Linked DNA regions of Homo sapiens. The protein of the gene in region 2 purifies or fractionates together with the protein of the main gene of each other region. This does not show direct contact. Each region holds a gene or a part of one and is shown on either strand. Other genes may lie near its edges.

Region 1 (3,653 bases), on a different chromosome or scaffold from region 2:
GAAGGACCAAACCCCTAAAAATGATTTAAAAGTCTAGGAAGCAGGTCCCAAGTAATTAAACTGTCATGACATTTCCTTCCCATGCTTTCAAAAGATGTTTGATAAAGCAAGATCTTTTGGAGTTGTTTATTTAACTTAGGGGATGAGACTAGGTAATATTTTGCATACCCAGATTCAAGGAAGTAAACAGGCAGAATGAAAGATAAAGCACTATTAAAATATGGTGGGTCTTTTCTTTTTTGTGTCTTTACACAGTTGCTGGTTATATTTATTCTTTCGTTTGTATAGATGGTGTCACCTCTGATATGTCTGAGTTAGAAATCTTCAGACTTTTTTTTTATGCCATTAGTGTAAGTCTCTTTCATGTACAAATGTTGAGAATGAGCCTCAGGTATCAGTTGAGTAATGGGACCCTGTATAGGTCCCATTATTTTTAGGATCAGGGAAGTTTTTAAAATCAGTTTTAAACCCTTTTTACAGTGTACCTCTTTGATAAGGAGATTGTGCTTTGGCTGTCATTTGATTTTTTTTTTTTTTTTTTTTTTTTTTTGAGACAGAGTTTTGCTCTCGTTGCCCAGGCTGGAGTACAGTGGTGCGATCTCAGCTCACTGCAACCTCCGCCTCCCGGGTTCAAGCAATTCTCCTGCCTCAGCCTCCCAAGTAGCTGGGATTACAGGCATGCGCCACTACACCCGGCTGATTTTGTATTTTTTTTTTAATAGACTTGGGGTTTTTCCATGTTGGTCAGGCTGGTCTGGAATTCCCAACCTTGGATGATCCGCCCGCCTTGGCCTCCCAAAGTGCGGGGATTACAGGCGTGAGCCACCGCACCTGGCCGGCTGTCATTTGAATTTTTATTATTTTATTTTATTTTATTTTTTTGAGGCAGGGTCTCGCTGTGTCGCCCAGGCTGGAGTGCAGTGGTGCGATCTCGGCTCACTGCAACCTCCGCCCCTCCAGGTTTAAGCAATTCTCTGCCTCAGCCTCCGGAGTAGCTGGGATTACAGGCACGTGCCACCACGCCCGGCTAATTTTTTGTATTTTTAGTAGAGATGGGGTTTCACCATCTTGCCCAGGCTGGTCTTGAGCTCCTGACCTCGTGATCCACCCGCCTCGGCCTCCCAAAGTGCTGGGATTACAGGCGTGAGCCACCGTGCCTGGCTTGAATTTTTTTTTTTTTTTGAGACGGAGTTTTGCTCTGTCGCCCAGGCTGGAGTGCAGTGGCGCCATCTCGGCTCACTGCAAGCTCCACCTCCCGGGTTCACGCCATTCTCCTGCCTCACTCAGCCTCCTGAGTAACTGGAACTACAGGCGCCCTCCACCACGCCGGGCTAATTTTTTTTTATATTTTTAGTAGAGGCTGGGTTTCACCGTGTTAGCCGGGATGGGCTCGATCTCCTGACCTCGTGATCCGCCCGCCTCAGCCTCCCAAAGTGCTGGGATTACAGGCGTAAGCCACTGCCCTCCGCCCGAATTTTTAAAAATTAATTTTATTATTATTATTTTTGAGACGGAGTCTTGCTGTGTCACCAGGCTGGAGTGCAGTGGCACAACCTTGGCTCACTGCAATCTCTGCCTCCCGGGTTCAAGTGATTCTGCCGCCTCAGCCTCCCAAATATCTGGGATTACAGGCACCCGCCACCATGCCCGGCTAATTTTTTTTTTTTTTAATTTCTAGTAGAAACGGGGTTTCACCATGTCGGCCAGGATCATCTCGATCTCCTGACCTCGTGATCCGCCCGCCTTGGCCTCCCAAAGTGCTGGGATTACAGGTGTGAGCCACGGTGCCCTGCCTAAAAATTAATTTTTTTTTTTTTTAATAACTGAGTCTTGCTCTGTCGCCAGGCTGGAGTGCAGTGGCACGATCTCAGCTCACTACAGCCTCTGCCTCCCGTGTTCAAGCAATTCTCCTGCCTCAGCCTCCTGATTAGCTGGGACTACAGGCACACGCCACCACGTCGGCTAATTTTTTTTTTCTTTTTCTTTTTCTTTTTTTTTTTTTGTATTTTAGTAGAGACGAGGTTTCACCAGGTTGCCCAGGCTTGTCTTGAACTCCTGAGCTCAGGCAATATCTGCCTGCCTCAGCCTCCCAAAGTGCTAGGATTACAGGTGTGAGCCACGGTGCCAGGCCAAAAATTAAATTTTTTAAACAGCAAATGTATATTCATTATAGAAAAGGAGAAAACACAAACACCAAGAAGAAAATTCTTGGTTGGGCCTTAGGTTGGGCCCAACCCTTAGGTTGGGACCAGCGGCTCATGCCTGCAATCCCAGCACTTTTGGAGGCCGAGGTGGGCGGATCACCTGAGGTCAGCAGTTCGAGACCAGCCTGGCCAACATGGCAAAACCCTGTATCTACTAAAAATACAAAAATTAGCCGGGCATGGTGGTGGGCACCTGTAATTCTAGCTACTTAGGAGGCTGAGGCAGGAGAACTGCTTGAACCTGGGAGGCAGAGGTTGCAGTGAGCCGAGATCGTGCCACTGCACTCCAGCCTGAGTGACAAAGCAAGACTCCCTTTGGGGGGTGGGGGAAAAGATGCAGGAAAAAAAAAAGCTGACATTTATTTTGTGCCAATTCTGTTTGCCAGGCATTACAGTAGATGCTTTACAGACATTATCTTTTTTTTTTTTTTTTTTTTGATGCAGAGTCTGGCTCTGTCGCCCAGGCTGGAGTCCTGGAGTGCAGTGGCACGATCTCGGTTCACTGCAGGCTCCATCTCTTGAGTTCACGCCATTCTCCTGCCTCAGCCTCCCAAGTAGCTGGGACTACAGGTGCCCGCCACTACGCCCGGCTAATTTTTTGTATTTTTTAGTAGAGACGGGGTTTCACTGTTAGCCAGGATGGTCTCGATCTCCTGACCTCGTGATCCTCCTGCCTTGGCCTCCCAGAGTGCTGGGATTACAGGCGTGAGCCACCGTTCCCGGCCAGACATTATCTTTTAAGCTCATGATAACTGCTGATGAGTAAGGAAACTTCAGGCTCAGAGAGTTTAAGTATTTTGCCTGGTATTACTTAGCAAGTAATGAAAGCTAGAAAGGATGGTAGCCTGACTTCTAGCATTGTGATAGGGTGTTCACATACATAACCTTATTTCATCCATACAACAGTGTTCTACAGGTATTACTCTGGTTTACCGACATGTAGCAGGCTCACAGAGCATCATTATCTGTGGTTGGTACTTGAAGTCTCAGATAGGATAGTTGATTTTCAGATCCCTTTGGGTGCTACTTTTGGAAATGCTACTAGTTGCATGTTTTTCACGTTGATAGTTTGTAGCCTTCAAGGGAGGTAATTTTGGATTTGTCAGAAGGGTAGTGGTCAGTAGTTGAAACAGCTGTTTGAAATACTGAGGGCTTCATTTGCTAAAGAAAGGTGAAGATGAATTACTGAAAGAGATCGCTTTTATCTTTTTTCTCTTCTTAAAAAGCTACTTTCCAACTTTATTCCATGCCTTAATAATTTAAAAGAAATTAAAACCTCTAAATAAATCTTTAATACTCATGACAGGGTGTTCTTTCATTCTTTATTCAAGACACATTTTTGTGGAACAGGTACTATATGCCAGGTCTTGAACCAGATGCTGGGAATAGAGAAATGGGATACTCAGTCCCCATTATCAAGTTACTTACAGTCTAGTGGGGAAGACAGAA
Region 2 (3,653 bases):
TCAAAATATGACAGTCCATCATAATCGAATGGCAGACAAAATAATGGCTGTATTCCCCTTATCTAAATAAAGTAGGTATTCTAGTCATATAGAAGATATTAACACAAACTCTAATTATAAATACAGAGAATATTCTACTTTATTCAGATAACAGCTGACACGACTTCTTGTTTTGCTTTATGTTCTCCTTACTACAAATGAAATTCCTGGACTCATGACATCAGTAGGTACTGGAGGCTATGCAACCTGATTCCCTGTACCTGCTTTACAAAAATATAACTTAGAAATATTAAGTGCCTTTACCTCATAAAGACATTGTGATTTTTGGTATTAGGTATGTTTTGAATTCAGTAAATGTATGAAAATACATTTATATGTGCTTAATTTCTTATTCACTTAATACATATAATCTTACATTTTCCCTTGCTGATAAAACCTAAATTTTAAGGCAAAGATTTTTAAAAATTTGAATAATTAAGATTCTGGTCTACTATGAAATATACTAATCTTAAAACATATTCTTGGTGATAAAATAATCCTGATTCCTATAAAATCAAAGCTACAGGTAATATTACTTATATTATGAGGTAAGTCTCATTCCTGGCATTACCAACTTACTCTAAGGGAGGCACTGAATATTCCATTTTAAAGGAATTTGAAGCCTAAAATGACAAAATTCAGAACAGTACAACTAAACAATGGAAGCTAGAAAGATCTGGAAGAAATACATTGCAAAGTCCACAGCACAGAATATACCTTTTAATTCTGAATAAAAAAAAGTCCCCAAATAGAAAAACCTATATTAAAATAAATAAACAGTAATAAAAAGAAATATCCAATTATGTAAGTGTTGGATGAAATGCTAAAGCATGAAATAACCACACAAAGGAAGAAAATAAATGGCCAGTTTGAAGAATCTTCTGTCATCTGGTTCCCCAACTACACTGTGTGCCATACACAATATGAGACAAAATAAGGGCTTTTATTAGTTTAAGTTTTGAGTACCTACCAACAAAAAAAAAGAGAAGAAAGATTCCCTAAAAATTGGTAAGAATTTTATTGCTTCTCTTTTTATTTCAAAAGCAATTTACTTATTTGATATAAAGACAGGTACCTCAAAATATTTGAAAAGAACACGAGTGAGTGTCTCTCTGAAGTGAGAAGGACATAATACCGATTCGATAATCACAACTCGGCGGTCTCTGGGATTCACCAATAGATGCCTGAAAAGTGAAAGTTTTGGTTTTAAAAGTAAAAGTTTTTATTCATTTTGTTAAGTCATACAATTTAAGAACAGTGAAACTGTACTACCTTAGCTTAAGATATTTTATCACAAAAAGACATCTTCATTTTATTACCCCAGAAAGATAACATTTCTGACCTCTTACTATGTACCGTGCAGTGTGCTAGGAAATTCATTAACTTACTTATCTCAGAAACCTAAAATTATAGCCTACTATGATTACCAACTTGAGCCATTATATAGATTTTTTTTTTTTTTTTGAGACAGGATCTGGCTCTGTTGCCCAAGTTGGAGTGCAGAGGGGCAATCTCACCTCACTGCAACCTCAGCCTCCTGGGTTCAAGCCATCCCCTGATCTCAACCTCCTGAGTAGCTGGTACTACAGATGTGAGCCACAGCACCTGGCGATATTTTCTTTTTTTTTAGGTTACAATAGTAATATATGCTCACAAAGCTCCAAATATTATGACACGTAAAACTTGCAAAGTACAAGAACCTTATATCTCTACTACTCAGAACTATCACTGATAGAAGTTTGTATTTTTTTTCATTCTTATGGATGTATGGGGGTATGTTTTAACAGAAATACTCATTCCATAGATGTGGTTCTTTAACTTGCTTATTTCACTTATCAATATATCCCACACACCTTCCTGTACTACTACATACAGATGCAGAACTCTTTTTAAAGAGCTGCATGGTATTTCACTGTATGAATGTAGAATAATTTAATTATCAGTTCACTTCATTAATGAATATTTCATTTTCAGTATCTCTTTATGTCTGCCAGTTTTCTAGTCTTCAAATATATTTTTGAAAAGGTTGAAAATAAGCATGTAAAAATGGCAATAGAAGTCCATTTTTTTTTTTTTTGGCCTCAGCTGTAACACAACCAATTATCACTATGGCATTAGGAAAATCTATCTAATCATAAAAGCTAGAAAACAAAATGTATCTTACCTGAAATATAGTATGTGGATGAATTCCTTTAGGTAGGAATATAATTCTTCTGTATTGATATTATACTGAACAACTCTGACAGGCTGTAAAAAATTAAAATGATTTATTAATTTATATTAATAAAATAACCTCAAATTAAGATTAAAATGTAATTATTTACTAATACATTTTCTGGGAATAAATTAAAAGCAATCTGTATTGAGAATATAAAAATTAAATACAGAGTAATCTCTTAAATTAGGAATCCTTAAGAATCGGAATGTCTAAGATGGCAGAATGTTTTAGTCTGTGGTAATGGAAGTGTGTGTTCATAGGAAGTAAAGAGCATGGCTCACATGCATTTTTCCTCCATCTGACTTATCATTTTGGCTTGAATGATAAAAATCAGCTTTGAGGCCAGGTGTGGTGGCTCATGCCTGTAATCCCAGCACTTTGGGAGGCCGAGGTGGATGGATCACTTGAGGTCAGGAGTTCGAGACCAGGCTGGCCAACATGGTGAAACGCTGTCTCTACTTAAAATACAAAAATTAGCCAGGCGTGGTGGTGTGTGCCTATAGTCCCAGCTACTCTGGAGACTGAGGCAGGAGAATCACTTGAAAACCCTGGAGGAGGCTGCAGTGAGCTGAGATGGCTCCACTGCTCTCTAGCCTGGGCAACAGAACCAGATTCCGTCTCAAAAAACAAACAAACAAACAAACAAACAAATTTCCAGCACTTTGGGAGGCCGAGGCAGGTGGATCACCTGAAGCTAGGAGTTCAAGACCAGCCTGGCCAACATGGTGAAACCCTATCTCTACTAAAAATACAAAAATTAGCTAGGCGTGGTGGCGTGCACCTGTAGTCCCAGCTACTCAGGAGGCTGAAGTGGGAGAACTGCTTGAACCCAGGAGGTGGAGGTTGCAGGGAGGCAGAGGTTGCAGTGAGCCAAGATCGTGCCACTGCACTCCAGCCTGGGTGACAGAGTGAGAACCTGTCTCAAAAAAAAAAAAAAAAAAAAATTCAGCATTGAATAAAAAGCATCAAAGGCTTCCTCAAATACTCAACTTGGTTCAGTCCCTGTTAGTCCAAAAACACTGATATCTTCTCTTTTGCAACATCGCCACACTGAATTACTTGTAAAATGTCCCCCTTTCTGCTAGATTATAAGCTCTATGCACAAGAACTATTTCTGGCTTGCTTATGATATATCTTTCTTCAAATAATACAGTTCCAGGTACATAGTTGTGGTTGTTCATAAATATGTGTGATAAAAATGACAACAAACACCATTAGCACAAAAGCAGCCTACACACATATTACCAAGCCATGAGTGCTAAGTCAATGCTAATATATAACAATGGCTTCACTTATGATCCTCAGAAAGCTCTCAGTACTCTGATGCATCATTGGCAGACCTCTCTTCATTTACTCTTTCAAAAGAAGTACCATCAGCCTAATTTCTTGATTTTAT

Evidence for each region. Proteins that work in one complex are often made in the same cells at the same time.
Region 1: the proteins of ACTR10 (region 2) and LMNB1 fractionate together in Homo sapiens (co-fractionation; one large-scale study listed by BioGRID). This does not show direct contact.

What each region holds. Positions count from the first base shown.
Region 1 is NC_000005.10:126,783,492-126,787,144, forward strand, and holds part of LMNB1 (lamin-B1), read left to right. Parts: intron 1-3,653. UniProt on the Homo sapiens protein: Lamins are intermediate filament proteins that assemble into a filamentous meshwork, and which constitute the major components of the nuclear lamina, a fibrous layer on the nucleoplasmic side of the inner nuclear membrane.
Region 2 is NC_000014.9:58,206,569-58,210,221, reverse strand, and holds part of ACTR10 (actin-related protein 10), read right to left. Parts: intron 2,287-3,653; coding exon 2,204-2,286; intron 1,224-2,203; coding exon 1,115-1,223; intron 1-1,114. UniProt on the Homo sapiens protein: Part of the dynactin complex that activates the molecular motor dynein for ultra-processive transport along microtubules.